7 linked regions of the Homo sapiens genome follow. The protein of the gene in region 6 purifies or fractionates together with the protein of the main gene of each other region. This does not show direct contact. Each region holds a gene or a part of one and is shown on either strand. Other genes may lie near its edges. The genes, in order: KATNB1, MIOS, WSB2, NEDD1, ZZZ3, PFDN4 and RC3H2.

The links.
Region 1: the proteins of PFDN4 (region 6) and KATNB1 purify together in Homo sapiens (affinity purification with mass spectrometry; 2 studies listed by BioGRID and IntAct, with this or other methods). This does not show direct contact.
Region 2: the proteins of PFDN4 (region 6) and MIOS purify together in Homo sapiens (affinity purification with mass spectrometry; 2 studies listed by BioGRID and IntAct, with this or other methods). This does not show direct contact.
Region 3: the proteins of PFDN4 (region 6) and WSB2 purify together in Homo sapiens (co-immunoprecipitation; one large-scale study listed by IntAct). This does not show direct contact.
Region 4: the proteins of PFDN4 (region 6) and NEDD1 purify together in Homo sapiens (affinity purification with mass spectrometry; 2 studies listed by BioGRID and IntAct, with this or other methods). This does not show direct contact.
Region 5: the proteins of PFDN4 (region 6) and ZZZ3 purify together in Homo sapiens (affinity purification with mass spectrometry; 2 studies listed by BioGRID and IntAct, with this or other methods). This does not show direct contact.
Region 7: the proteins of PFDN4 (region 6) and RC3H2 purify together in Homo sapiens (affinity purification with mass spectrometry; 3 studies listed by BioGRID and IntAct, with this or other methods). This does not show direct contact.

What each region holds. Positions count from the first base shown.
Region 1 is NC_000016.10:57,734,381-57,738,569, forward strand, and holds the start of KATNB1 (katanin p80 WD40 repeat-containing subunit B1), read left to right. Parts: upstream 1-1,389; 5' UTR 1,390-1,475; intron 1,476-2,055; exon of another isoform or gene 2,056-2,264; intron 2,265-2,597; 5' UTR 2,598-2,863; coding exon 2,864-2,903; intron 2,904-4,189.
Region 2 is NC_000007.14:7,583,620-7,587,637, forward strand, and holds part of MIOS (GATOR2 complex protein MIOS), read left to right. Parts: intron 1-2,016; coding exon 2,017-2,186; intron 2,187-4,018. UniProt on the Homo sapiens protein: As a component of the GATOR2 complex, functions as an activator of the amino acid-sensing branch of the mTORC1 signaling pathway. The GATOR2 complex indirectly activates mTORC1 through the inhibition of the GATOR1 subcomplex.
Region 3 is NC_000012.12:118,058,249-118,062,759, reverse strand, and holds the start of WSB2 (WD repeat and SOCS box-containing protein 2), read left to right. Parts: upstream 1-1,580; 5' UTR 1,581-1,711; coding exon 1,712-1,724; intron 1,725-4,511. UniProt on the Homo sapiens protein: May be a substrate-recognition component of a SCF-like ECS (Elongin-Cullin-SOCS-box protein) E3 ubiquitin ligase complex which mediates the ubiquitination and subsequent proteasomal degradation of target proteins.
Region 4 is NC_000012.12:96,913,483-96,917,500, forward strand, and holds part of NEDD1 (protein NEDD1), read left to right. Parts: intron 1-4,018. UniProt on the Homo sapiens protein: Required for mitosis progression. Promotes the nucleation of microtubules from the spindle.
Region 5 is NC_000001.11:77,561,398-77,564,787, reverse strand, and holds the end of ZZZ3 (ZZ-type zinc finger-containing protein 3), read left to right. Parts: 3' UTR 1-2,372; downstream 2,373-3,390.
Region 6 is NC_000020.11:54,206,804-54,211,270, forward strand, and holds the start of PFDN4 (prefoldin subunit 4), read left to right. Parts: upstream 1-1,283; 5' UTR 1,284-1,297; coding exon 1,298-1,321; coding exon of another isoform or gene 1,322-1,567; intron 1,568-1,598; exon of another isoform or gene 1,599-1,947; coding exon of another isoform or gene 1,948-2,112; intron 2,113-4,467. UniProt on the Homo sapiens protein: Binds specifically to cytosolic chaperonin (c-CPN) and transfers target proteins to it. Binds to nascent polypeptide chain and promotes folding in an environment in which there are many competing pathways for nonnative proteins.
Region 7 is NC_000009.12:122,877,614-122,881,631, reverse strand, and holds part of RC3H2 (roquin-2), read left to right. Parts: intron 1-837; coding exon 838-1,038; intron 1,039-1,312; exon of another isoform or gene 1,313-1,419; intron 1,420-1,506; coding exon 1,507-1,639; intron 1,640-1,758; coding exon 1,759-1,877; intron 1,878-4,018. UniProt on the Homo sapiens protein: Post-transcriptional repressor of mRNAs containing a conserved stem loop motif, called constitutive decay element (CDE), which is often located in the 3'-UTR, as in HMGXB3, ICOS, IER3, NFKBID, NFKBIZ, PPP1R10, TNF and in many more mRNAs.

The sequences.
Region 1 (4,189 bases), on a different chromosome or scaffold from region 6:
GATGTTATTCTGCTAATCTTTTAAAGGTGTCTTGCGGTGACTCACGCCTGTAATCCCAGCACTTCGGGAGGCTGGGGCGGGTGGATCACCTAAGGTCAGGAGTTCAAGACCAGCCTGGCCAAAATGGAGAAACCCCGTCTCTACTAAAAATATAAAAACTAGCCTTAGCCCGTCGTGGTGGCGGGCGCCTGTGGTTCCAGCTACCCAGGAGGCTGAAGCAGGAGAATCTGAAGCAGAAGGCTGAAGCAGAAGGCAGAGTGGGGACTCCCCCACGCTTTGGCTTTCAGAACAAGGGTTCGAATTCTGGGGCTATTACTTTCTGACCGTGTGGTTTTCTGCAAGCATCTTAACCCGGGCCTCAGTTTCCTCATCTGTAAATGGGAACAGGAATTCCTACCTCTTATGGTTGTACTGGGCGTTATGTGAGCCCAAGGAGCCCTGACCTGCGGTGAGAGGCTGGAGGCCGAAGGGCAAGGTTCGAGGGGCTCTGGGTGCCTGGGACAACCTCTGGGCAACAGGGAGAGGCGGCTGCGGGGCCAAGTCCCTCCTAAGCGGCCACGCGAGAGGCCCTGAGTCGAGAAGGGTTACGGCGCTTCCCAGAGCCCACCCCGCCCAACGTGTCACAAATAAAGCTGGCCTTTCTCCGATTCCCTGATTGCAGCCATTCAGGGAGCAGCCCCTTGCCCACGCATCCATTAGTCGAGGCGGTGGCTGCGTGTGCAGTGCTACAGGGTTCAGCGCCTGCCTCGGCTCCGGAATCAGGCTGTTTCCTTCTAGACCTCCCATGGGGGATTCAAGCCGGCGTCCGGGTCAAAGAACAGGGACAAAGTCCTCCTGCCACGGGGGACCATCTGCAGGCAAAGTGAAGAATGAGGAGCTTCGGCAAAATGCCGACTAAGGCCTCCTTAGGTTTTGCCCCACTCCAAGATGGAAGGCCTGAGGCTTCACACTGCCCCCGAAGTTCCTTTCCCATTGGCTATCTGGGAATTGAGTTTTCCAATAATGCGGACGCTGATTGGTCAATCCAGGACGGTTGCTCAAGCCATTGGCGCAGCCGCCATTGGAGGGCGGCTCTCAAAAGTTTTCAGACACAAATTAGGTTCGAGGGAGGAAACGGAGAGGAAAGGGAAAACTTGAGACGGAGGCGGGACTAAGGAAACGGCAGCTTGCATTGGTTTATTAGAGGCCAAGGGGCGGCTCTTGAACGTTCCTTCCTCTTGATTAGTCCTATTTAGGAAAAGAGGGCGGGTACTGAGGAAAAGCGGCAGAAGCGCCTGCTTCCATTGGTCAGTCCTGGCAGGAGGCGGAGCACCCGCGGCAGCTGATTGGTGCGGGAGGCAAGGTGGGCGGGGCTCTGAGCCGGAGGTTTTGTTGTGAGGGTCGGTTGTCAAGCAGCGGCCAATCAAGGCAGGGGATGGAGGCAAGTGGGGGTCGCGCCTGGAGCGGAGCCTCGGCCTCCGGAGCCGCAGCTGCAGGTGGAGTGGGCAAGGGGACGAGGTGGCGAGGGGACGGTGGGCCCTGGGCTGGGCCGAGCCAGGCGGGGCTGGCTGGGCTTGCGGGCAGAGAGCTCTGAGCGTGGGGAGGCTAGAGCCCGTACTCCGCAAGCAGAGGGTTGGGAGGATCAGCCGTGGCCGAGGGACCTGCCCCCGCCCCCGGACGAGAGGGGTCGGGGTGGAGGCCGGAGGGGGCAAAACCAGGGAGGCCGGAAGCAGAGCTGGGGGTCTGCAGAAGGACAGGTAATGAATAGGGAGAAGAGAAGTAGGAGAATGAATGAATGGGAGACCCCGCGAGCATATGGGAAAGGGCAGTAACGGGAGTCTGGCGAGGCAGGGGCCACGTGAGGGATATCGGGAGACAGGATGTGCATAAGTGGGAGACTCAGGGGGCAGGGAGAAAAGGGGGTGTGAACGGAGGACTAGAGAGGCAGACCCGGGGACCCAGGAGAAAGGGGACGGAGGGGAGCGGGCTCATGGGAAAGAGGTGAAGTGGCTGTGGGAAGGAGGTGGGAGGCTCCATGAGGAGGCCTTTTAGAGTTGAAGAGTCATAGCCACTTACGCCCAGACTGGAGGCCTAGTTCCTAGCTCTGTCCTTGGGAATCGCAGGGAGCAGGAGCGGTTCCCTTGCCAGGAGCTGGGGAATTGGACCATCAGGGTCGTCTTCGAGATTCTTTCCAAGGAGGACTTCAGTGGCCGTCTCTGGGATGCCTTTCCTAGGCCCCTAAGCTTAGCTTCTGACTCCGCTCTCCCACATCCCACACGTCAGACAAAAACAACGACTCGCAGGAAATCTATGTGAATTGCAGACACGTGGTCTTCTCCGCCCCACTGCGGCTGCTGCACTTTAGGCAGCCAGCATCCCGGAACAGAGCTGCAGCTCATTATCCTGGCCTCTGGGAGGAGTTTCTTTTTCCTTACGTTCCAAATCACCCTACCTGAGGTGCCCCCTCTGCAGATTCCCAAACCTAATTTGCAGTGCAGCTTCTGACTCTGGTGGCTTTGGTGGGTGTCAGTCTTTATCAAGTGGTCTTGGTGATCCAGGGAGCAACAGCTCTTACCAAGCATTTTCTAACATGACGTCACCTCTTGTTTGTATTGCAGCCCTGTATTGAGCTGAGATGGCTCGAGCCTAACATTCCATGATCCAGGATCGTGACAGATGTGCACAGGCTGCTGCTGTTGCTGCTGTGGGTAATTTGGAACCACGAGGCACCCCAGGGCCAGAAGACGAGGCATTCTGTCTGCCTGGATGTGTGGGAACTCTCTGCCAACTTGATTGGTGGATCTGGGGGGGGATCCACCCCCACCCCACGAGGAAAGCACAGTTTATTTTGTGGGTGGGGCTTCAGGTGCCAGCCAGCTGAAGGATGGCCACCCCTGTGGTCACCAAGACAGCCTGGAAGTTGCGTGAGTGGTTTTCATTTTTCTTTATCACCCCATTTATTCTGTTAGCGGCTTGTTGCTGGGAGGCCTGAACCCACAGCTTTGTTTCCTGTTCTTGGCACAGGAGGAGACTCCTAGACTTGGGAGTAAGATAGACCATTATGTAAATCATGACTGTGGCACTTCTTAGCTGGGTGACACTGGGCAGGTGACTTAACCTCTCTGAGGCTCAGTTTTCTTATATGTACAATGAGATGACGCCTGCATTCTATGGTTGCTGTGAAATTCAAGTGACAGGATGAACCCATCCTAAAGCACTTAGCACAGCATTTCCAGTTAGGCTGACAGTGGGGTGAGAAATCCTGAAAGATGTTCACAGCATTCTCAGACATCTCACAAGTCAAACTTCCCCAGTCAGATAAAAGCATCTTGGGCCTGGGATGGGGGAAGGAGTGGGAGCGAGGAGGGGCGGGCAGAGGGATGCAGACAGGGCTCGGATTGTAACTGATGGGCACTGTCCACTCCCACCATTGCCCTATACAAGTGGATCTGGACTCTTTCATCTGAAGACTTCATACTTTAAGAATTATTGAGGACCCCAGAGTGCTTTTGTTTGTTGGAGTTATATATCTGTCAGTATTTACCACGTTAGAAGTTAATACTGAGACATTTTCAAACAAGAGTATATAATCAAATAGGCCTCTAGTGATGTTCTGGGAAACTCCACCATATGCTTGAGAGCAAATGAGAGTGCAAAAGGCAGATGCCATCTTAGTGTTATTGTGAAAATCCTTTTGTCTTCTCAGACCCCCCGAAAGGATCTTGAGGATCCCAAGCATCCCCAGATCATATTTTGAGAATTCCCCTACACATTGGCACCTTGGTGGGCCCTGCCCCACCTATTGTAACTGGTTGGCATAGCTTTTGTGTGCTCCACCTGGTCACTGTCTGCTGCCAGCTGTCCCTGGGCTGGTTTTCAGGAGCTGGGACAAGACTCCACACTTTTTTTTTTTTTTGAGACAGAGTCTCACTGTCACCCAGGCTGGAGTACAGTGGTGCAATCTCAGCTCACTGCAACCTCTGCTTCCCGGGTTCATGCGATTCTCGTGCCTCAGCCTCCCGAGTAGCTGGGATCACAGGCACCCGCCACCACACCCGGCTAATTTTTGTATTTTTAGTAGAGACGGGGTTTCACCATGTTGGCCAGACTCGTCTCGAACCCCTGACCTCAGGTGATCCACGTGCCTCAGCCTCCCAAAGTGCTGGGATGACAGGCATGAGCCACCATGCCTGGCCAAGACTCCACACTT
Region 2 (4,018 bases), on a different chromosome or scaffold from region 6:
GCTCAAGTGTGTCCATTTTCAATGTTTTCTCTTAAAGATAGTTCACATAACATTTTTTAAAATATATTTTCTTAAAGATTAGGGCTACTTTAGCCTACAAGTATTTTTACGATCCATATTTGAGTGTTTTAGTTTATACTTTCTTTGGGATGGTTATTGTTTGACCTTTAAGAAACTCTGAATGACACTTTTATTTAGGCTAATACAAATTGTTATAAAAAGCATACTTTGATCTTCAAATTGCTTCTTGAATCTGGTGATTAAAATACAGTTTTCATTTAGTATTTTTTAAAAAGAAAGAGATAAGGTTTTTTTACTCTGGCATTTTGCCAGAGGATCCTCGGAAAAACAAATCCTAATACAAAACCTCAGGGGTTTTTTTCTTATCAGGAATATTTCGCTTGGAAATAACTAAAATATATATAGCTATTGGTCTTTAGTACACCTAAAAAATAATTTTTGAATATTCAGAATACTGAATCCTTACTTGCTGGTCCATTTTGAAACCATTATAGTTTAGCTGTAGCATAGAGAAAAACATGAAATTCACTGTAATTTTTTTTGTAGTCTAAAAGTTAAAAAAGTCAATGTTTTGCTCAGATTGGCATCTTTTCCTTCACCTTTGCTCTAACAAAAGTCTCCCTCATTTAAGAGTGCAATAGAAAATAGGTGATGATGGAAAAAAGAATTGATATTTAAAGCCATTTCTAATTATAATTTTGCTATAACTTGAAAGGGTGATACTTTCCTATCTTGTGTACCTGGGAAATTTGGTGGTCGATTTAAACACCCATACTAACAATAGGGAAAATGTATCTTTCCAGTGATTTTAAGGACTGAAGAGAAGACTTCTCTGAGTCAAACATTCTTTTCCATTTAGAAGTAAATTGTTCTATACAAAATCCAAAGATACTTCTTTGCTATTTTTATTTTTATTTTAAAAGACCTTAAATCTAATGTATTAGGCAAAGGAAGCAAGCACAAAGTAACTTGGGAAAGTGTTTATAGAAATGAGGAATATAAAGCTGTTAAGAACATAAAGTGGGAAACACTGCTTTATTTGGAAAAGAAAGAAAAAGATTAGAATCAAGAAATAGATTAAGAAAACTTATATAATAAGTGTAGAAAATACTTAAAAGTCAAAGTTAAAGGAAAATTCAGTTTTTTCTTTTGAAGCTGAACTTCGGTTAGAAGACTAGGCAGCCATACTGCTGAAGGCAAAGTTAGCAGCTTATCAGCATGCATCTAAACTGCTAAGAACAAATGTTTAAAAGACTATTGGTAACAAATGCTTTCTTGCAAATGGGTCTAAATGCAGTTCTGTGGTAATTCTTGTAGTTCATTTTGTCCTGGAAAAATTGTAAGTGTAATACTGTAATTAAAGTATTGAAATATTACTTTCTGCACTTTGCATTGACACTTATATACATAAGTGTCTGCATTATATATTTAGGAATAGGAAAATAAAATGATTTTGAATATTGCAGTCTTGAGATGCAATATTTACTATAAGTGTTTTTGAAATACCTTTACATTAATAAACTTGTTAAAGTTGACAGTGATTCTGGTAGGATGACTTCACTTTTCTTCATTTAGTAAGCAATAACATACATATATGGGAACATACACAGGAATAACTTATATAAGACCCTGCCTGGATTGAGAACTTGAAAAGTAAAAGATCTGCTTCCCTGCACAGAGTTTGCACACATGGGCATGAGTTTTATAAGGGTAGAAATGTTTTGCTTATTGTCTTTGCCAAATTTTCCAGTCTGAATCAAAACCCAAACCCCCCCCTTTTTTTTTTTTTTCAAGAGTAAAGTGCAACTTTATTAAGAAAGTAAAGGAATAAAAGAATGGCTACTCCATAGGCAGAGCAGCCCAAAACCCTTATTCTCTGAGCTCATTTTTCTGAGGGTAAAAGTCACCCTCTGATTTCTATTTATGGTTTAAGAAATGTAGAAGAGATATTAAGCTTTTGATCACTTTGATTAGCTGGCTGTTTTTAATATGCAGGAGATCTGAATCTCAATGTGGTAGCAATGGCTTTATCGGGTTATACGGATGAGAAGAACTCCCTTTGGAGAGAAATGTGTAGCACACTGCGATTACAGCTAAATAACCCGTATTTGTGTGTCATGTTTGCATTTCTGACAAGTGAAACAGGATCTTACGATGGAGTTTTGGTAAGCTAACTTGTTTTTTAAGATCTTCCTTTGAATTAAGATAGGAGTTTTTATCTAACTTTATTAAAATTTTCAAATGTCTGTTGCATAAAATATTATATTTTTATGCATATGTTATTTAAAATAAGGCATCTTGGGCTTTTTTTTTGAGCAGCTCTTCTTGAGTGTGATTCCCGTCCTAGAGTTAGTTAACTGATACCAAACTGGATTTGATTTTTATGGTTTTAATATAATTTACAGATATAGAAGGAATAAAGATTTTATCCTTTAGCTTAAGAACTGAGCTGTAGAAATCTACAGCTGTGTAAACATAAAAATATATTCGCTGTTTACACTGTGCACACATGCACGTGTGTGTGTGTGTGTGTGTGTGTGTGTGTGTGTGTGTGTAGTTAAATAAAACAACTCACGATTATTGATCAGTTATGGTGGAGGTGGCCATACATCTTGTCCCAGTTAGTCTTTGTGGTTCCTGTTAGGAATGATAACAGTACTTACAGTGGACTATTTCAGCTTTTTATTTGGTCTTTGTGTTATTCTTTTTCTCTTCTGTTTTAACCACCTGTGATCATAACACAATCAAATAGGTTCTTTATCACAAAACGGGGAAAGAAAGAATGAAGTGAGATTTGCTTACCAGTTTTAGCTATTGGGTTTTAAGCTAAACAATAGTACTACAACTTTCTTTGCACTACTTGGCTTCTTTCTAGCAGTGGGAAGAACTTTCTACACTGAAATTCATTTCTGTGTTTGCTACTGTACCATTTCTTATCAATTATACATTTCTTGAATAAGTGATTTAAGGATTAGTCCCTAAGAATTTGTAAAAATATGTATTTTATTGGAGCAGCTTAATGAAATGTTTAATAAATGTGTATTTTGCACTTTATGTACTTTATTACTTTTAATAAATTACTATTGAACTTTTTCTGACCAATTCAAATTAATACGTATAATGTTAGGACTTTATTTTTTAACTGTAATTAATCTTTTTTGTTAAACAGAAGACTTTAAATGTATCTTGGAGAGATAAAATAATGCTTTCACGAAGTGTTAGAGAATGATAGAGACTAGATAAACAAGTGGATTGTTAACTTCTGAATTGATAAAAGATGTATATTGTTTAAATATTAAATTTCTGCATTTTAAGTTAAGTGACCCATAATAAGTACTTTTCTTTCCCTTTTTTTTTTTTTTTTTTTTGTTGTTGTTGTTGTTGTTTTTGAGACAGTGTCTTGCTCTGTACCCATACTGGAGTGCAGTGGTGCAATGGCAGCTCACTGCAACCTCCACCTCCTGGGTTTAAGTGATTCTTGTGCCTCAGCCTCCCAAGTAGCTGAGACTGCAGGCATGCACCACCATGCCGGCTAATTTTTGTATTTTTAGTAGAGACGGGGTTTCCTCATGTTGGCCAGAAATATCAATTCTGGTCTCGAACTCCTGATCTTGAATGATCCACCTGACTTGGCCTCCCAAAGTGCTGGGATTACAGATGTGAGCCGCCATGCCCTGCCCCAGTATCCTTGTTTTGCTATACATAAATTTGAGTTATTAGATAACAGTCATCTTGAGTACGAAGTTCATATTTCCAAGCTGTTTCATTTATGTATTTAGTTATACTTTATGTATAAATAATTATAATTAATGTTGCTATTTAAAAAATGTTAATAGTAATGTGAAAAGTACTGAATTGGGAAGTCGGAAAATACAGGCCTGACTCCTTGCTCTGCCCCATTTACCATAGCCATTCAGTTAATTTTTTTGAGTATTACTTTCTCGAGATGTAAAATGGGACAGAATAATGTTTATAACTCTTTCCAGATCAAAATTTT
Region 3 (4,511 bases), on a different chromosome or scaffold from region 6:
TTCAAAGAAAAGAAAAAAAAAAACCGGCCAAGCGGGGTGAACAGGAGTGTAACCCAGGAGGCCAAACGGGACACAGGAAGGACGTACCCAGGGCTCATAAAACAGGGGCCTGGGTAAAAAAACCCGAAACATTAAAACGGAGAGACCATGGTGAAAAAGAACACGGGAACCTCAGTTACCGTAGAAAACATAGGTTGCGTTAGGAAGCAAAGAAATTTAAAATGGAACCACTGCGATCCGGAGCTCTGGGACCAGTGACCGGCAAATGGAGAGGGCACTTGGAGGGAAGCGAAGAAAGGCGGGGAGAAAGGAATGAGAGGCGGGAGAGTGACTTGAATGAAGCTGACACCAAGAACCGCGGGAAGAGCTTGGGCCCAAAGCAGGAAAGGGAAGCGCTCGAGTTGGGGGTAAGGGGAGGCATTTTGGGGACAATGAGCTGAGCTCAGTAAGAAATCCCCAAGCCACTGATACTACTGGGGACCGGACAACTAAGAAATGGGGTCTTTCAGGCATGAAAAGCCTCCATGATGACTCCTGCCCTGGCCCTGGAATGTTAAAAAGGGGGCGTCTGACCCAAGCGAGCCATTTCTTGAGGCTATGCGGGTAGACAGGGAGAGCAGGTTTCTCAGGGGGACGGGGACAGGCGAGGCTGTCGCCGTAGGTAGGTAAGGGGACAGTCTTCTTCCGAATCGCTCCTGCCCCGTTTTTTATCTCGTTCCCACCCCCACTCCGGTTTTCACCCTGCCCTCCTCTCCCCACCGCCCCGTGTTCTCCTCACTTCCCTCTCCCATTACCGGAGCCATTGAGTAGCCCCCCTTGTTTTACCCTAGCCTTGACCCTCGCCGCACCCCCCAATTCTTACGTCCTCCCCAGCACCCGGTTATTACACCTTCCTTCCACCCCCTCCCCATTTTCCCCTAAGCCCAGCTCTCCCCAGGTTTCTTCTCGGCCAGTATTCCCTCCAACCTATTTCTCCCGCCCCCATTTTTACCCGTTTCCCCCCTCATCGGCCTTCGCATGGCTCCATTTTCACCTGCCCCTCCCCTCGATTTCGCTTCAGCCCCTTTGGTTCCCCTTACCCCCACAGCCCTCGGTCTCCCTCTCTCCGTTCTCCCCGGATCGCCGCTTCCCCTGCTTGGTTTTTCTCTCAGCCCGGCTCTACCACTCTCCAACACCCCCTTTTCCCCTGAGCCCGGCTTCCCCTACTCCGGTTTCTATCGCTCCCCTTTTCCCGGTTTCCCTCAGCTCTGTTCACCTCCCTCCCTTCCCCGTTTTTATCCGGCGCTGGTTCCCCTCAGGACCCCGCACAACCCCTGGGTTTTATCCCGTTCGCGCCCCACCCCGTTTCCGCTCAGCTCCCCCCACCCCTGCCCCATTTTTATCTGGTTCGCGCGTCTTCCCCGCCCCCGTTTCCCCTGAGCAACCCCTCAGCTTTTATCCCGTCAGCGTACCGCCTCCCCGATTTTCCATCTTTTCCCTCAGCTGCCCCCCACCGTTTTTATCCCGTCCGCACCCCCCCTCCGTTTCCCCTGCGCCCCGCCCCCGCGCGTCTCCGCCCGCGCCCACCGCCATGTGACGGGAAGCAGCTGATGGCCTCTCCGGGCGGCGGCGGCGGCCTGGCCGGGGCGGGCGGCGCGGGGGCGGCATGAGGGCCCGCGGCCCGGGGGGCTGAGGCGCCCGCCGCCTGCCGCGGGGGCCGCTCGCGTCCTCCATGGAGGCCGGAGGTGAGTGGGGCCGGGCGCGCCCGTTCCCGCCCGGCGGGGCCCTGGCCCGTTCTCCCCGGGGAGGGGGGAGGCGACCCCGGGGCGGGCTGGGCGGGGTGGGGCGGGGGCTGGACGCGGCGGGGGCGTCCGGCCTGGGAGGTCCGCGCGGGGCCGGCGGGGGTGCGCGCCCGGCGACCAGCTTTGTTTCACTTTCGTTGTCAGTGGCCGCCACCCTGACTCCCGCCGGCGACAGGATCGGGAAGATCGGGCTTCTGCGGGAGGAGATCCCCCGACCGGGACAGAGGGGGCTCCCGGGTGGGACTCGGGGCGGGGGGCACCAAGCCCTAAAACGGAGATCCCCAAGGGGGTGGGTGCCCCTGGGTACCCAGGTGCCAGGGGACGCACTTGCATGTCTGGATGGGAGTCACCTCTGTCCCTCACAAGCTGTGTGATCGTGACAGTGGACAAGCCACTGAACCACCGCCACCCACGTCTCAGTTTTGATCTGCAAAATGGGATAATCCTAGTACCTTCCTCGGAGGGTGGCTGGGACCCGGTAAAAATGGGGTCTGGGGTCTGGGTTCCCTATTGAAACAATCTATTCCCAGCCTCTCCCACTGGAGATTAAGTCAGTGGAGGTGGGGCGGGACTGGAGACGCTGATCCCTGGTGACATGTATGATCAGGCAAATTTAGGATACACTGATGGGTGGGGACCTTGCCTCTATTCTTGTTAACTGCCATCCCCATCAGAAGACAGCGTGGAAGTCAGAGGATATTGGATATACCTCAAGCCAGCCCAGATGAACATAAAATCTCAGTGGGAAAGGTGTGTCTCTTATGCAAGGGGAAAAAAACCCCAAGACGCATGCACGCCTTGGCCCTCTCCCCTCCAACGACCTTCCCTCGGAACCCCACTTGGGATAGATTTAGAATTGATTCCGGGAGTCCCAGGTCTTGAAGGACCCGAGTTTAAATGTAATTTCCTTAGGAGAAATTTTCAGAGCAGGTTCAAGGCCTAGGGCTCAGAATTTGTTCCAGAACTTCATGGTAATCTTGCAGCCAAGTTCAAGCTTCATCCTGGTCTGGAGGGTTCTGATTGCTGATGGCTTGTTACTGTGGGTGGGAAGGTTGAAATCTGGGTATTCCCTGGGGTGGTGTTACTTTTTAATTTAGGAAATGACATTTCTTTGTTTGCTGAAGTCAGGCATTGAGTTAAAGGCAGCTCTCTCTCCTTCCCATCTAGATAAGGGCTTTCTTTTCAGTGAGTGTTACCCGTAGAATTCTTTTTAAAAGGGCCCCTACTGTTTGTGTAGATCCTATGTGAATCTTTTTATAGCTTCCGTTTGATTTCCATTGCCTCCTTACAGTTCAATCTGAAAGCAATCTGTAGCTAGCCTGCCTTTTTAACAGAAATCTGTTTCCAGTTCTGGGGTTTTCCTAAAGATTGACAACTTCGTTTTGAGGGTGTGGGCAGGGTTGTTGAGAGCTGCCAAGTTACTGTACAAAAAAGGCCAGAGTTTTAACTTATTTTCAAATGGAATAAAGCCCATTGTAAAGGAAATACAATGGGCAACAGTTGAAATCTTCAGAGCAATGGTTAGACTTCACTTATTCATTCAGCAAATATTTGTTGAACGTCTACTATGTGCCAGGCACCCTCTAGGCCAGCCCCGACCAACAGAAGTCTAATGTGAGCCACGTATGTAATTTAAAATGTTCAAGTAGCCACATTAAAAAAAAGAAAAAAGAACTAGGTGACAATTTAAAAACTCTTTCAATACAACATGTCTAAAATATTCCTGCTACATGTAATCAAATAAATTGTAATGTAATGTTTTAGATTTTTTTTTGTGCTAAGTGTTCAAAACGTGTTGTGTATTTTTTACTTACAGCCCATCTGAATTCTGACTTGCCACATTTCAAGTGGTTGGTAACCACATGTGATTTCCCTATTAGACAGTGTAGCCCAATAGCAGTGAACTGGCAAGTTTGGGTGGGTTCAGAAAGAGACAGACAATAAATACGTAAAAATGACAGGCAATCAAGAAAATATCAACCAAATGCGCCGGGGTGGCTCACGTCTGTAATCTCAGCACTTTGGGAGGCTGAGGCGGGCAGATCACTTGAGGCCAGGAGTTCGAGACCAGCCTCACCAACATAATGAAACTCCGTCTCTACTAAAAATACAAAATTAACCAGGCGTGGTGGTGCATACCTGTAATCCCAGCTACTCAGGAGGCTGAGGCAGGAGAACCGCTTGAACTGGAGAGGTGGAGGTTGCAGTGAACCAAGATCTCGCCATTGCACTCCAGCCTGGGCAACAAGAGTGAAACTCCATCTCAAAAAAAAAAAAAGAAGAAGAAAATATCTAAGTGATGGTTATAAAGAAAATCAAATGGTTAAAGGAAAGTGAATGGTGCCAGGCGCAGTGGCCCAGCAGTTTGGGAGGCCAACTTGGGTAGATCACTTGAGCTCAGGAGTTTGAGACCAGTCTAGGCAGCATGGCAAAACCCCATCTCTGCAAAAAATACCGAACTATAGGCGCGTGCATGGTAGAATGTGCCTGTAGTCCCAGCTACTGGGGAGGCTGAGATGGGAGGATCATCTGAGCCTGGGGAGGTCGAGGTTGCAGTGAGCCGTGATGGTGCTACTGCATTCCAGCCTGGGCAACAGAGCAAGACCCTGTCTCAAAAAAAATAAAAAATAAAAAAGGAAAGTGTATGGTCGCTTTAGATAGTGAGGCCAGGATGGTCTCTGAGAAGGTGACATGAGGACCAATCCCTGAATGATAAGATGGAGCAACTGA
Region 4 (4,018 bases), on a different chromosome or scaffold from region 6:
CCTGCCTCAGCCTCTCAAGTGGCAGGGATTACAGGTGCCCACCACCACGCCTGGCTAATTTTTGTATTTTTAGTAGAGACGGGGTTTCACCATGTTGGCCAGGCTGGTCTTGAACTCCTGACCTCATGATCCGCCCGCCTCAGCCTCCCAAAGTGCTGGGATTACAGGCATGAGCCACCACACCCAGCCTATCCTTTTGTTTTATAAGTTAATCCCTCTGATTAAGGATAATACTGGCTTCTTCATTTCTAGTCACACACTCTTTGAAAGCTATTTCTTTTTTAAATAAGATAAGATTTAAATAAAAAGATATGGTAGTTGATAGCTTTTTTTTTTAATTTCAAAGTTTTTCTAGCAGATCTTAAATTATTATGAATTGTCATAATTTTACACACTGGGATAGGTAAAGTAGCCCAATTAGAAAGAAAACAGCAGGACAACTGAATAAAAGCTCAACTAATTTAAAGAGGACTCATGATTTTTATCAATCCTCTCCTAAAGGTATCCAGTGGGATTGACCTGAACTTCAGTTCTAACCCACAGATGTTGGAGACTGGGACAGAGGGAACATGTGCTAACAGTAGAAATGGAGTTTGAGGCACTCTGTTTAACCTGACTTAAGCAGAATCAAGGCATAGAATGTCTCTGGTCGATAAAGGCAGACTGAAGTCTTCAAGAGCAGGCAAAACATCTTAACCATCTTTGGATCTTTGTATCCTAAGATGTTCAAAAAACTTGTTAATGTCAACATCAAAACAATTTCAACTTCTACTCTACCACTATATATATGTACTACTGTTATGCATTATGCCTTAGGATCAGTGAATCAGTATTTGGGAGCTTTTTTTTTAAAGTATAAAAATAACAGATGGTATTTACAAGTGTGACATAATTCTAAGAGTTTTGTGAATATTCCAAATTAGTTGCTATGATTCTTAGCCCTCTTTCCCATAGTTAACAAATTGTATCATAATGCTGTTGGATAAAAGTAAGATTAGTTGAGTTCAAATTTTCAATCTATTTTAATTTAGTTATGAAAATATTTGGAAACATTGGTTTTTTAGCTTTTACTAGTAATGTTTACAGAAACATATTAATGTGCTAATAACCTTTTTGTAACTTCCAAGTCCTCTTACTCGTGTATTATTTGAGGCATTAGACCTTTTCTACTTGAGAAAATAAATTATGATCTTACTGATTTTAAAATTTTAGAGTAGAACTTTAAGTTCATATTTATTTTCTTTGATTTTGTATTTCACCTCTTTAAAGTAGAATGTACCTTTGCCTTGCACCTTGAGCAGTTCAGGATTCCTGTAATAACCACACAATTTCCATTAATTATTTAAGTTCATTAGTTGCATTAATAATACATTATCATAAAAAAGACCTATCAACAGGGTTAGCCAGCTCTAAATATAATTTTTATTTTGAGCCCTTAAGAGTAATTGTAGTTGTTGTGATGATTGGAGTCCCAATATATTGATCTTCAATGGACACCATCTTTTTCTATTTTATTTAAAGGCTGTTTTGATAGTTCTTAGCAAACTGTCCTGATTTGCAGTGACAACCAGATTCTAAAGCTTCTTAGTCTCCCTCAACTAAAGTCAATTCCTAGAATGGTATCTGCAGGAGAATTACAGCAACTATACTGAAACATTGATGTTGTGTGCATCTTGCTATTTTTATATGTTAGTTGATACTCTTGGTCAAAATTTTAGAGCTAGAAGGAACCCTGGGGTCCACAGAAGTGAACACAAATCTATTTGATTTCCTTGAAGCATTTTTGACCCCCTTAAAAGCCGTTGGATCCATGTGGAAGAAAGACAGTAAGAGAGTGGCTCTTTAGTACAAGATTAGCATGTTTATAGTATTTGAACGTGCAATGGGGGAAGGGCTAGAGGAAGGGGATCATATGCACCCTTTAAAGAATCTCTTTTGAGCAGAGGATATTTCTGAGAAGCATGGATTCTCAAAGTAAGAACAGTAGATCTAGTCTTCACCTTTCGTTTCTCAAATGCAGAAGCATAGGCTCAGAAAGGTGAGATGATTTGCCTAAACCTACATAGCTTGCCTTTTAACTTTTCTTGAAGTCATGAAATGTCTCCTTTGAATTTGAAGAATCCAAGGATGCACTGTGGAAGTTCCAACTAATGTGACTTCGTAGTGCATCTAAAGGTTACTTAGGAAAAAAATGCAACACTGTTCTGTATAGCATAGTTACTGATGGCACCACCAAATTGGTGACACTCAAAGATACTCACTGAGAAGAACTTGACAACATCTGTATTTTAGCCATTCTATAAAGATGGAGCATGGATATGGGCCTTGTGCTAGTGAAACTGACATTCTGGCGGGGGACAGGCAGTAAACTAGTAAACAAAAAATACCCAGATATTGGTAAGTTATCATGCAGATAACTAAAATAAGATATTGTGATAGCAAGTTACATTAGGTAGCCAATGGAGGTCCCTTGAAGTGTGGTGGCACTTAAGTTGATATCTGTTGACCAGAAAGTCTTCCAAACAGGGTTCAGTGAATTTAGCTTTCTAGGCAAGGAGAATAGCTGTGTAGAAGCCTTGAGGCAAATATAGGGTTGTATATTTAAGGAATGGAAGGTCAGTATGGCTGGAGAATTAGTGGATGAGGAAGAAAATGGTAACAGATGAGGTAGGGCCCAAATAATAGGACTTTGAAAGCCAGGTAAATGTTTGGAGTTTATTCTTGGTGTGATTGGAAGCCGTTGAAGATTTATTATTATTATTATTATTATTATTATTATTTTTAAATTATACTTTAAGTTTTAGGGTACATGTGCACATTGTGCAGGTTAGTTACATACGTATACATGTGCCATGCTGGTGCGCTGCACCCACTAACTCGTCATCTAGCATTAGGTATATCTCCCAATGCTATCCCTCCCCCCTCCCCCCTCCCCACCACAGTCCCCAGAGTGTGATATTCCCCTTCCTGTGTCCATGTGATCTCATTGTTCAATTCCCACCTATGAGTGAGAATATGCGGTGTTTGGTTTTTTGTTCTTGCGATAGTTTACTGAGAATGATGGTTTCCAATTTCATCCATGTCCCTACAAAGGACATGAACTCATCATTTTTTATGGCTGCATAGTATTCCATGGTGTATATGTGCCACATTTTCTTAATCCAGTCTATCATTGTTGGACATTTGGGTTGGTTCCAAGTCTTTGCTATTGTGAGTAATGCCGCAATAAACATACGTGTGCATGTGTCTTTATAGCAGCATGATTTATAGTCATTTGGGTATGGAAGGAGACATGATCTGATTTACATTTTTAAAGTCCACCCTACTTATGAAGGATGGAATATAGGAGAGCAGGAGTGGAAACAGGGAAACCAGTTAGGAAGCTGCTGTCGTAGTTTGGTAAGGTTTGGGTTAGTGTTAGTAGTAGCTATAGATAAAGGGGAGCCCATGTGGGATTCATTCTTGGGTTGGAGTTTAGAGAGCTTACTGATAGATTGGAGGGGAGGGAGAACAAGAAATCAAGGGTTATTCTGGGTTTTTATCTTGAGAAACTGGATGGTGTCTTTACAGAGATGGGGAACAGTTGAAGTCAGGCTTTGATGACCTGATGTCTGAGACTTGGTCTCCTTAACGGAGATTTGCTGGAAGACTTAGGGCAAGTATCTTGACTTCTTTAAAAAAAAACTTATCCCATCGGTAAAATGAGGGCTGTACACTGGAAATTCTTTTAAAGTCTCTTCTATTTTTAGCATTTTTGAGCTGGGGATTGATTTTAATGTAGGATATTCTGTGGAAATACAAGAGCAGGCTTTATCAAGAGGAGATAGGATGGGCAAACAAGCCCTGATGGGAGACCAGGACTGCCAGTGTTTTCTAAGCTTCCTGTGTCGTCACCGGTCCACAGAAGTGAATGCAAATCTATTTGATTTCCTTGAAGCATTTTTGACCCCCTTAAAAGCTGTTGGATCCATGTGGAAGAAAGACGATGAGAGAGTGGCTCTTTAGTACAAGATTAGCA
Region 5 (3,390 bases), on a different chromosome or scaffold from region 6:
ATATAAAAATCATATATATGGTAATAATTTCCCTCTTTTGTAGTCTGCACAAGATCCATAAAAGATTGTATTTTTATTACTATTTAAACAAGTGATTAAATTTAGTCTGCACAGTGAGCAAGGGTTCACATGCATTCTTTTATACTGCTGGATTTTGTTGTGCATCATTTAAAACATTTTGTATGTTTCTTCTTATCTGTGTATACAGTATGTTCTTGAATGATGTTCATTTGTCAGGAGAACTGTGAGAAATAAACTATGTGGATACTGTCTGTTTATATTATAGAATGCTTGTTGTGACTTCCTTTTGGTTAGATTTTGGATTTTTTTTTTTACCAGTGTTAAAACCAGAAATTGGTATTTTTTAAAATGGTTTGCTTCACATATTTAAGAGTTTTCTTTCTGTCATTTATGAAGAATAAGGAATGTATTATGGAAAAGAGGGTGATCTTAAGCAACCCTGTAAAAAATGGTAAAGATTTTTACTCAGTGTGTGCTGAAACACTAAATTAAACTAGCTTACAAAAAGGAAACACGGACCATGGTTAAAGAAAAAGGCAATTATTAATGCTCAGGTGTGAAAACTAAAGTTGAAAATTTTTTTTCTAGTTGTGTCTCATGAAGATAAGCCCCCATGTATTTAAACAGATGGCTTTTGAAAAATCACCTTGTTTCCTGGAAATTACTATTAACTATAGGAAAAGATAGTATAAATATTCTAAGATTGATTGTTATATTTGACCCAATTTTTAGAATCACCTGTTTTTTCCTATTTTAAATCAAGGGAACATTATTTACTAGTTCTCTTCAGTACATAGCAGGGTACTAAAATCATACCCTGAATTTTTTTTAATTGAGAAAAGTAATAGAATTTTAAATATAGAAATATGAGAATTTTAAAGTAATATATTGATTAAAGATCACTGATGATATAGATATAATATATCATAACAGAAGGAAAGTAAATGGACTTGAGCTTAACTTCTCACCCTGGAATTATTAGTGGGTGAAGAGGGGAATCATTAGCATTCTGGGCGTTTTTATATTAAATGTTTTGTGAATATGCCAGAAGATCTGCCTTCAACTTGTAATTAGGCAAGATAGTAATGCTTGATGGTAACTTCTATGTTTGTGTAGAAATAATACCAGTTAGTTTTGGAAAGCCATTCAGATCCATTCAAAAATTCCATAAAGTATGATGTATGCTTTGGAAGAGGGATATGAGTGATACAATTGTTATATAAATGGAATAGACAAACCATTTGAATGCATTTTTCTAGGGCAAACATTTTTTGAGATTTTTGAGTTAAGAAGATTTTTCGGCTTGAGCAGAAGATGTGTTTGTTTTGCATTTTTCAGCTCCAAGGAAACAGCCCCCATGGCTTTAAAAGGCCCTGAAGTTCAGATAGTAGTAGGTAGTGTTTTGTTATTGTTTTAATTTGAGAGTTGCAGGAATAATGGGCAGAGCTGTCATTTGCCGGTAGGCTACCATCTGCCTACATAGAATTATTGGACTGTAAGCTAAAACAGACTGTAAAAGACCTACTTGCTAAAGCATTGCTTATTCAGTGGTATTCAGTAGATAAGATCTATTTCCTGATATATTGTGCTCAAGTTATTTGCACATCTTAAGAAACTTTTAATATCTAAAACCATTGTTGTAAGATTTAGGTAGAGGAGGTTTCCTTTTGTGTGATGCATAATAATAGAAAACACTGATACAGTGTTTACTATGTGCCAAGCAAGCATATGATAACTAATTCTTAACAACTCTATGAGGCAGGGTCATTTATTATCCTGTTGTCATATGAGGAAATCTCGCCAGAGAGAAGTTAATTAACCTGCCCAAGGTCGTATAGTTAGTAAAGTGGTCATGCTTGGATTTTAACCTAGGCAGATTACTTCAGAGTCAGCGTCTGCCTTACTATCCTGTTTCCTGAGCAGGAATTTCCCCTTGTGTCAGGCAACACTAGGTGTTAGGAGTGGAGGTGTGCAGATGTTGCCTTACATTCTGTTTTCCTGATGTGGTGTGCTTCCTAAGAGTACAAACCTGAGCATATGTCCAGGCTTGCAAAGTCTCAGGCAAAGCTGGGACTAAGGCTTGTGTTTCCTGCCTTGGGTAGGATTTTCTTCTATGCATGTTGGGTGCTTCTCACTTAACCTAATAGTATGCCTTGTCTGTTTTCCCCCCTTCCCCTTTTTGTTTAAATTGATTCACAGAACACAAAAATTTACTAGGTATGAACATTTGAAAAAATGGAATAGAGAAAATGGTACATCACATGTAATAAAGATAAATATTGTTTTGTGAAATGTCTTTTTCAATCATAAATATGTGTTGTGTGCTATATAAAACTATTTCTTATTGTGGATATTGAAGTTTGAAGCCTGTTGTTCATCTATAGATGCACTGGATGGGATTGGAAGTCTTCAGATTTCAGTAGGGTTTTCCACAAGCTTATGAAGACATTGTTCTGTTTAGGCTGTAAACTGTTTTTATTTCTTGATGAAAAATGTTCTTCTATTTATATGATCCCAGAAAAAAGATACAACTTTTTTTTTCTACAGTTAATGTAGCTAGTTAACTAGAGTTTTCAGAGTTATAATACATTTAGCTCCATGAGAACAGAGACGATCCATGTCTGTCTGTATCTCTAGGGCCTGGCATTTAATAGATTCTCAATAAATATGTGTTGGTTGTATGACCAACATTTTGGTGAGTTTACATTTTTTTCCTCCAGGAACTTGAGAGACACCACCTATGATTGAGTGTGTCTGTGAGATCCTTAGAGGCCTTGCATCAGAAGGTCATCTTGACAGTTCTGTGAGAGGACAGGGGAATTGGACTCTATCTTACCCAAAGGCTGTGATTCAACCCTGGGTGGCAGAGGTGGTTTTGGTTCTCTGTGGGACCCTAGATAGGCTGTGTATCTTGATTCTCTTCCATGTTTTTAAGAGTAGTGTAATGGGGCTGGGCATGGTGGCTCACGTCTGTAATCCCAACACTTTGGGAAGCCGAGGCAGGTAGATTGCTTGAGCCCAGGAGTTTGAGACCAGCCTGGGCAACATGGCAAAACCCTGTCTTTACTTAAAATACAAACAAATGGGCATGGTGGCACGTGGCTGTAGTCTCAGCTACTCGGGAGGCTGAGTTTGGGGGAATCACCTGAACTTGGGACGTTGAGGCTGCAGTAAGCCGAGATGGTGCCATGGCATAATAGCCTGGGGGAGAACGCTGTCTCAAAAAAAAAAAAAAAAAAAAGCAAGGTAATGGAAAGGACACTGGAGTGAAAATTCTGGGTCTTAGTCCCAGTTGTGGAAGTGAAGCACTCAGTAAGTGTTGACAAAGAACTACCTTTCATTGCACATTAGGAGCTAGTAAATGATTCG
Region 6 (4,467 bases):
TGATATTAAAGAGATCAGTGAAAATGTAAAATGATGACAATCTTCTCAATTTATTTTTGTCTTAGAAAATATAGTTATTTTTAAAGTGTGATTTTTATTACCATGGAATGGAGTTTTATATTATTTTAAATGAATTAATAAATACATTTTAAAAATTCTGCTTTAATTTCTAATACAGCAAATATCGATAAATAACCCACATAAACAAAAGTTCTTTGGAGTCCTCAGTAATTTCCAGGAGTATAAAGAGGTCCTAAGGCAAAAAAAAAAAAAAAAATTACTAATTGGGAGACACAAGTGTCAGAATATACAGTAATTGTTCAGTAATATTGCTGTAAATTAATTAATAGGATTGCCTAGTCACAACAGCAAAGGCATGGAATCAACCCAGATGCCCATCAGTGGTGGATAGGATAAAGAAAATGTGGTCCATATACACCATGGAATACTATGCAGCCATAAAAAAGAACAAAATCATGTCCTTTGCAGCAACATGGATGCAGCTGGACATCATTATCCTAAGTGAATTAACACAGAAACAGAAAACCAACCACTCATGTTCCCACTTATGAGTGACAGCTAAACACTGGGTACTCGTGGACATAAAGGTGGGAACAATAAATGCTACGGATTCCAAAAACGGGGAAGGAGGCAGGGGAAAGGGGTTGAAAAATTACCTGTGGGGTACTATGTTCACTACTTGGGCAACGGGATCATTAGAAACCCAAACCTTAGCACCATGCAGTATATCCATGTAATAAACCGGCACACATACCCCCCGAATTTAAATTAAAAAAAAATTACATTAAAAGATAGGAGTACCTCCTTTACACCACCTGAATTATCATGGCACATAAATCTCACACCCTATTTGCCAAGGCCATTCGTTCCTAGCTGTTTTACAGGTAGGTTAGCTTTCTCAATGCAAGTCTGTGGGACGGATGGAGAAAAATTCCCCGAGCCCTTTGATCCTGCCCCAGCTGGGCCCCGCCGCGCTGAGCCTTGGGCGCGCCCCCTGCTGCCCGCGGCCGGAGCCGTTCGCCACACCCCCGTGTTTATGTCGGTCCACGGGGGTTGCCTGTCCCTTTAATTGGCATGTACCAAGTCCTTCCAGGTCACATTTCCTCCCTACGTCCCAGCCGTTTGGACTCACTGGCCAAAAGTCCAAGAGGACGGAATGTGGAGACAGTGTTGTATTTTTGCGGGGAGTTCTAGGCCGACCGGGAGCGAGAGAACGCTCGGGGGCGAAGCGCGCCATTGCGGCCCTCCCCGCCGCCTGCGGTAGTCCAGTCCCAAGATGGCGGCCACCATGAAGAAGGCGGTGAGTGGGGAGCTCGGGGCTCTGGATGCTCGGGCGGCGCCGGATCTCGGCCGCTGGGGCCCGGGCGCGGGATGCTGGGGGTGCGCAGCTCCGAAGCCCGGCGTGGGACCCGAGGCCGAGGCCGAGGCCCTGAGAGCGGTCCCGCGGCAAGGCCTGCTCGCGCCTGGCGCCCTGAGCGTTTTCCTAGGCACCTGGCCAGCCGAGGCGGGGCGCCGGGGCTGGGGCCGGGAGCCTCGAAGGACGCAGGTCCGCCTCCCGCGATGCCGAGGGTGCCCCCGGGGAGTCTGAGGAACCTGCAGCCCCGGCCTCGCCCCTGAGGTGTGGGAAGCCGAAGGTCCCGTTGAGTGTGGTTGGCCTTGACTCGGGCGTTGCACCGGCATGATCGCATTAGCCTCACTGGTTATGGGTAGCTGCTGCTGGGAGCGTGGTTACGGGTGAGGAAACTGAGGCCCAGAGATGGGGAGTCACCTGCCCGAGGTTACGCAGCTCATAACGGGGACAGCAGGTTCCTGCATCCCCAGATTAGCAGGCCCCAGAGACCCTGTGTCCAACCTGGAGCTGCCCATTTCCACGCTTGATGCCCCTGAGTCCTTCAGGCTAAAACCAGTATTTATTGAGAATGGAAGATGTGCCGGGCCCAGCAGCCGGCCGTTTATCTGTTATCCTCCCCGCAACTCAGCAAGTGCAATGGGTTCCTCTCCACTTTGCAGGTAGAGAAACTTAGACACAGAGCAGTTAGAGGCCCTAAAGTGACTCAGCTAGTAAGAAGCAGAGCTGGAGTTCAAACTCAGGTTTGTTTTTGTTTTTCTCAAAGCACGCCTGTGTAACCACTAAGCCGGCTAAACTTCCATGTGGGGTTTTTAATCCCGTGAGCCTTCCCAGATGTGTAAAGATAGTCAGATAGAAGAAAAAGAAAATTGGAGAGGGGGAAGGAGATAACGGCTGATAATTTGGGGAGCTTTACAGTGTGCTAGGTACAGCTGTAAGTTGTTTTGCGTGTATTGTTTATTTTATGTTCTTTGAGGGAGATACTGTTTTTATCCTTATTTAACAATGAGAAAACAGGCGCGGAGGCAAAGCTAGCATTTAAACACAGGCATTCTGACTCCGGAGTCTGTGTTTTAAACTGCTATAGGGGGTCTTTGATGAGAATCTCTTGGCTGGAGGGATTTGCGTTCATTCCACTTTTAAGACCACATTAGAACTTCTTTGCTTTGCCCCTATCCAGTACCACATAGTCTATGCCATCTGTGCCTGGTGTAGGGTGACCCATTGCCCCCTTTTATATGAAATTGAGGGACTGCCAAAAATGGGAAAGCCCCAGCCAACTCAGGATGTGTTGCTCACCCTACTATTCTGCCATCCAAAAATTCTTACTGTGTCCCAGAGTAGGGTCTAGGGCCATGGTGATTCAAAAAAGTATGAAACTTTGTGAGATTCACTTCACCTCTAGTTTGTTAAATTGGGCCCTCTGGTGTTAGGTATGGCCTTTAATTCCTTGGAAGATACTAGTTGTGGTTCACTCCGTTTTATAGGTATGGAAACTGAAGTGCAGAGAGGTGAAGTAAATGGTAGAAGAGGAAATGGCAGAAGAATGATTTGAACCTTGGATTTTGATTGCAAAATTTCTAATTACCAACTTTTTTTTTCCTTTCATTGATTCAGTAAATTTTCGGGGGCACGTAATATGGCGTAGTCTCAGTTTTAAGTGGAGACAACTGTGGTGACCAGTGAGAAAGCTCTTCTCCCCTTAATCTCATAGCCCCAAAGAACGTATGTTCCAGGGCAGAGCAGGCATTACTCAGATAGTCAGACAGAAAACTAGTTTCTCTGATGAGAACTGTGAAGGAAAAGTGCTTATGAAATGAGGGCCAAAATGAGGTCTGTTTTGAGATCAGAGAAGACTTTCCTGGGAAAGTGCCATTTAAGTTGAGATCTGTGAGATTATGTAAGGAAAGGAAGGGAGAGTTGGATAGGGAGCGAAGCATTCTAGAGAGGAGTATCTGCAGAGACTCTGAGTGCATTTAATACAAGGAAGGCCCGATGGCAGATAATCAGGGGAAGAGAGTTTGAGCCATGATGGGAAAAGAACTTATAGAGGGGTAGGTGGTGGCCAAAATATAAAGGAGCTTCTTTAACTTTGGAGGCTTTAAGAGTCACATGATAGATGCAGTGTCCTCCTGTAGATGTTTCCAGTGTTAGGAACAATTCCCGATAGATTAGCTTGCATGTACACTTTTCCCCTTTGCCCTCACTAGGAGAAAACATATGTGTATGCCAGTGAGTGAGAGTGAAACAGAGAGAGATAGCCCTTTGAGTTTAATTAAAAGCAAATCGTACAATCTGGAGTACTTTACGTTTGTAACACATCGTATCTCTCAACTGGTCATGACTTTGCTGGGGAGAGTGTTTAGATGAGATGATTCAGTCCTCTCCTCTCTAGAGTTCTGCCTTCTAAGATCCAGTTCTTGACCATAAGGAGATCTGCACTTTGATTTCTGTTCATTATCCTATATACAAATGTCCTTTCCTCAGAGAGGCTACCTTTGACCTTTATCTAAAGAAGCCTCCTTCACTCCCCAGGCCCCCAAAACTTTCTACTCCTAAGCTGTTTTATTTTCATCATCACGTTTGTCACCATTGAACATTATCTTGTTCATCTTGTTTTTTGCTCTCTTCCTCCACCAGGATGTATGCTTGCCATTTGTATTCATGAAAGTGGGATAGTGGCTCTCTTGTCACAGTGCATGGCGTATAGGAAACAGTAATTGTTAAATAAACTACTGCATGGATGAAAGTTGAATACAAAAATTAGCTGGGCATGATGGCGTTTGCCTATAATCCCAGCTACTCGGGAGGCTGAGGCACGAGAATCGCTTGAACCTGGGAGGCAGAGGTCGCAGTGAGCCAAGATCACACCACTGCACTCCAGCCTGGCGATAGAGCAAGACTCGTCTCAAAAACAAAAAAACAAACAAAGAAGGTTGAATACAAATACAAAGCAAAAGTTTACATCATACAGACTTGGTAGATATGTTTTTAAAAGTAAAAATAAAAGACTGAAATTGGCCAGAATTTATTTCTAGGGACCCAGCTGTCAGTGCAGACTCCGTGTAATACCTAGACTTGGTGTGAGGCATGACTGA
Region 7 (4,018 bases), on a different chromosome or scaffold from region 6:
AATAATATCCAAATTCCCTGCCGTAGTATATAATGGCCTGTATTCTTCTCTAGCCTGTATCATATCTTAACCCTATGTGCTCTGCTTTTTCATGTTTCTGTTTCACCACTTGTTTCTCTTTTAAAAATTCTATTTCTCCCCCTTCTCTTTTTTCCTTTTTTTTTTTTTTTTTTTGAGACGGAGTCTCACTCTGTCCCTCAGGCTGGAGTGCTGTGGTGCTATCTCAGCTCACTGCAACCTCTGCCTCCCGAGTAGGTGGGAGTACAGGCGCCTGCCACCACCATGCCTGACTAGTTTTTGTATTTTTTCTTGAGATGGGGTTTCGTCATGTTGGCCAGGCTGGTCTCAAACTCCTGACTTCAAGTGATCTGCCCACCTCGGCCTCTCAAAGTGCTGGGATTACAGGCATGAGCCACCATCCCTGGCCTCCTCACCTTTCTTTGCTCAGGAAACTCCTGTTTATTGTGCACAAATCAATTCATGTAGCTTTCAGCTGGGAGAAGCCTTTTCTGAAATCCCTTTCTTCTCCCTAATTTAATTCCCTTTCCTCTTTGTTGCCATCAAGCCTTATAACTTTTACTATAATTTTCTACTTACAAGTTTCTCTTTCTTACTAGTGGCTGAAATCATTGAAGGCAAGGATTATGTATTTAGTTATGTAAGTTCTGTTTTGTTCCAGAAAGAATTTGTGGTCAGGACATTATCTTATCTTTGTACCTTATTTCTGTGGTGTCTGATATGTAAGTATCCCCCACCCTCCCTGAAAAAGGAATAAACGAATCAGTTGAAGGGAGAAAGCACAGACCAATTCTGATTTTTCTCTTTTCTATTTTTTAGGTTACCAAAAGAGATGAAGACTCTTCCCTAATGCAGCTGAAGGAGGAATTTCGGAGTTATGAAGCATTACGCAGAGAACATGATGCCCAAATTGTTCATATTGCCATGGAAGCAGGACTCCGTATTTCACCTGAACAGTGGTCCTCTCTTTTGTATGGTGATTTGGCTCATAAATCACACATGCAGTCTATCATTGATAAGGTTTGTGAAATTAGAGATGCTGATGTTCTATCATTGCTGTTACATTGAAGAGTATTAGAATATTCTAAAGAGTCTATACACAAACAGTTGGAGATTCCTATGTTTTTAAATGTCAGACTCTTATAAATTATCCTTATTTTCTTTTTATTTTTCTACTTGCAAAATAAAGGGATGCAACAGGGAAACAAATACATGATACTAGCATAAAAGCAGTGAGGCTTACAAAGTCTCAAATTTATCTATATTCTGACCTCAGAGAGTTAATACAGCTTATAAGTTTTCTAAGTGTCTAATGATGAATTTCATAGGGCAGATTCTGAGGTGAAAATTTAATTCATCACTGATACTCCTACTGTGGAATCTGAAGACACTTGAAAACGTATTAAATATGTTGATAAATTGAAAGTATTTGAGTATAAATGTGTCATAAGAACCAAAGTAAAAAGCATTCTCATTTCTGTTTGTTAGCTACAGTCTCCAGAGTCATTTGCAAAGAGTGTCCAGGAATTGACAATTGTTTTGCAACGAACAGGTGACCCAGCTAACTTAAATAGACTGAGGCCTCATTTAGAGCTTCTTGCAAACATAGACCCTAATCCAGGTATGTGGGAATATGCTCAGTTGCTTATATTTTTTTCTACTTTTGAGGTGAATAACACAAGAGAATTACTGCTAACATTCTTCCCCCCCAACCCCCATGCCCTTGGTGGCTTATTTTAGACGCTGTTTCACCAACTTGGGAGCAGCTGGAAAATGCAATGGTAGCTGTTAAAACAGTAGTTCATGGCCTTGTGGACTTCATACAAAATTATAGTAGAAAAGGCCATGAGACCCCTCAGGTAAGTACATTTATTACATTTCTGACTGCTGTTGTCTCTAACTCAGTTTCATCCTGAACATCTTAACCAGCTGTTTTGTTAATTGGACTCCGTATGTGACTCATAAGTTTCTATCATCTCTATTCTTTTGGGAGGAACCCAGTTTTTAGTGTACTTGGTAAACATTTCATAGCACACCAAGAGTTTAGAGGGTATCTTGGGTGTGAGTATACTTTATTGCAGAATATTTTTGACCAAATGTAGATAATTGATTCCAAACGTTTTGTCTCATTCTTTTCTACTGTGGGAAATTGTCATTTTTTTTCTGTATTGAATTTCTATATGTAAATTTATGGAATTTGAATTTTCTTTCTTTTTTTTTTAGACAAAGTCTCACTCTGTCACCCAGGCTGGAGTGCAGTGACGCTATCTCAGCTCACTGCAACCTCTGCCTCCTGAGTTCAGGTGATTCTCCTGCCTCAGCCTCCCAAGTAACTGGGATTACAGGCAAGTGCCACCACGCCCTGCTAATTTTTGTATTTTTTGTAGAGAGGGTTTTACCATGTTGGCCAGGCTGGTCTCAAACTCCTGACCTCAGGTGATCTGCCCACCTCGGCCTCCCAAAGTGCTGGGATTACAGGCGTGAGCCATCGTGCCTGGCCGAAATTTGAATTTTCAAGATACTTTTCAGTGTACTTTAGAAGTTAAGATATAAACCTGGCCAGGCACAGTGGCTCACGCCTGTAATCCCAGCACTTTGGGAGGTTGAGGTGAGTGGATCACTTGAGGCCAGAAGTTCGAGACCAGCTTGGCCAACATGGTGAAACCCCATCTCTACTAAAAAAAAAAAAATACAAAAATGAGCCAGGCATTGTGGTGGATGCCTGTAATCCCAACTACTGAGACGGCTGAGTCAGGAGAATCGCTTGAACCCGGGAGATGGAGGCTACAGTGAGCCGAGATCGCGCCACTGCACTCCAGCCTGGGCGACAGAGTGACTCTTGTCTCCAAAAATATAAAATAAAAAGAAGTTAAGATATAATCCTTTATACTTATAACTTCTATTTAATAAATTATTATGAGCCATTCACTACATTCAATGTTTTACATGTATTATTTCTTATCCTCACAGCCACCTGCAATGTAGTTGCTGTTTCCAAGCTGAAATTCAAAGAGGTTAAATAACATAAGATTGTGCTGTCAGGGGGCTGGGCGCGGTGGCTCATGTCTATAATCCCAGCACTTTGGGAGGCTGAGGCGGGCGGATCACAAGGTCAGGAGATCGAGACCATCCTGGCTAACATGGTGAAGCCCCATCTCTACTAAAAATACAAAAAATTAGCCGGGCGTGGTGGCAGGCGCCTGTAGTCCCAGCTACTTGGGAGCTCTCTGAGGCAGGGAGAATGGCCTGAACCCGGGAAGTGGAGCTTGCAGTGAGCTGAGATGGCGCCACTGCACTCCAGCCTGGGCAACAGAGCAAGACTCCGTCTCAAAGATAAAAATAAAAAATAAAAAAGGTTGTGCTGTCAGTAAGAGCTGGGATCAAACCTACACTTTGTACTCTTCTCTCCTTATTCTTAGAAGATATTATAACTTAAAATATTAAAAACAAATGTTTTCATCCTAGGCTCATAAGAATAAGAATGTCTTAGATTTTGATGCAAATTGTAGAAGTAATAGTGAAATTTTAATATTCTGCCTCATTGTATGAACTCAAATAGTTTAAGCCTGAGAGTTGCACCCTCAAGCTGACAAGTGAATTGGTAATTTTTCACTTCTAGGTGGAATTGTATTCTACCTTTTCTGAGAAAGTTTAAGTAGACAAAGCTTTTGGTTTTTTTTTAATGCTTTTTAAAATTGTTTGATTTTGGTAGCAGAATTTTAAGACAGCAATAAATTGATGAAAAAATATTTTCTTTTTCTGGGCATTCTGTTAACTAATGAATAAATGGACATAACATTTGAACCAGTTTCGAATAATCTTCAGAAGGAATATCTGAAGTGCCAATTCAGGGTTATGTCACATAACTCACAACAGGAAACAATGGAATATTAGTTGTTTCAGCACAAGAATTACTTGTCTAATGTGAAAAAGAATTAAAGGTGTAATTATAAAGTTCTGAACTTCCTAGAGTGAATAACAAATGGAATCTTCACCTTGC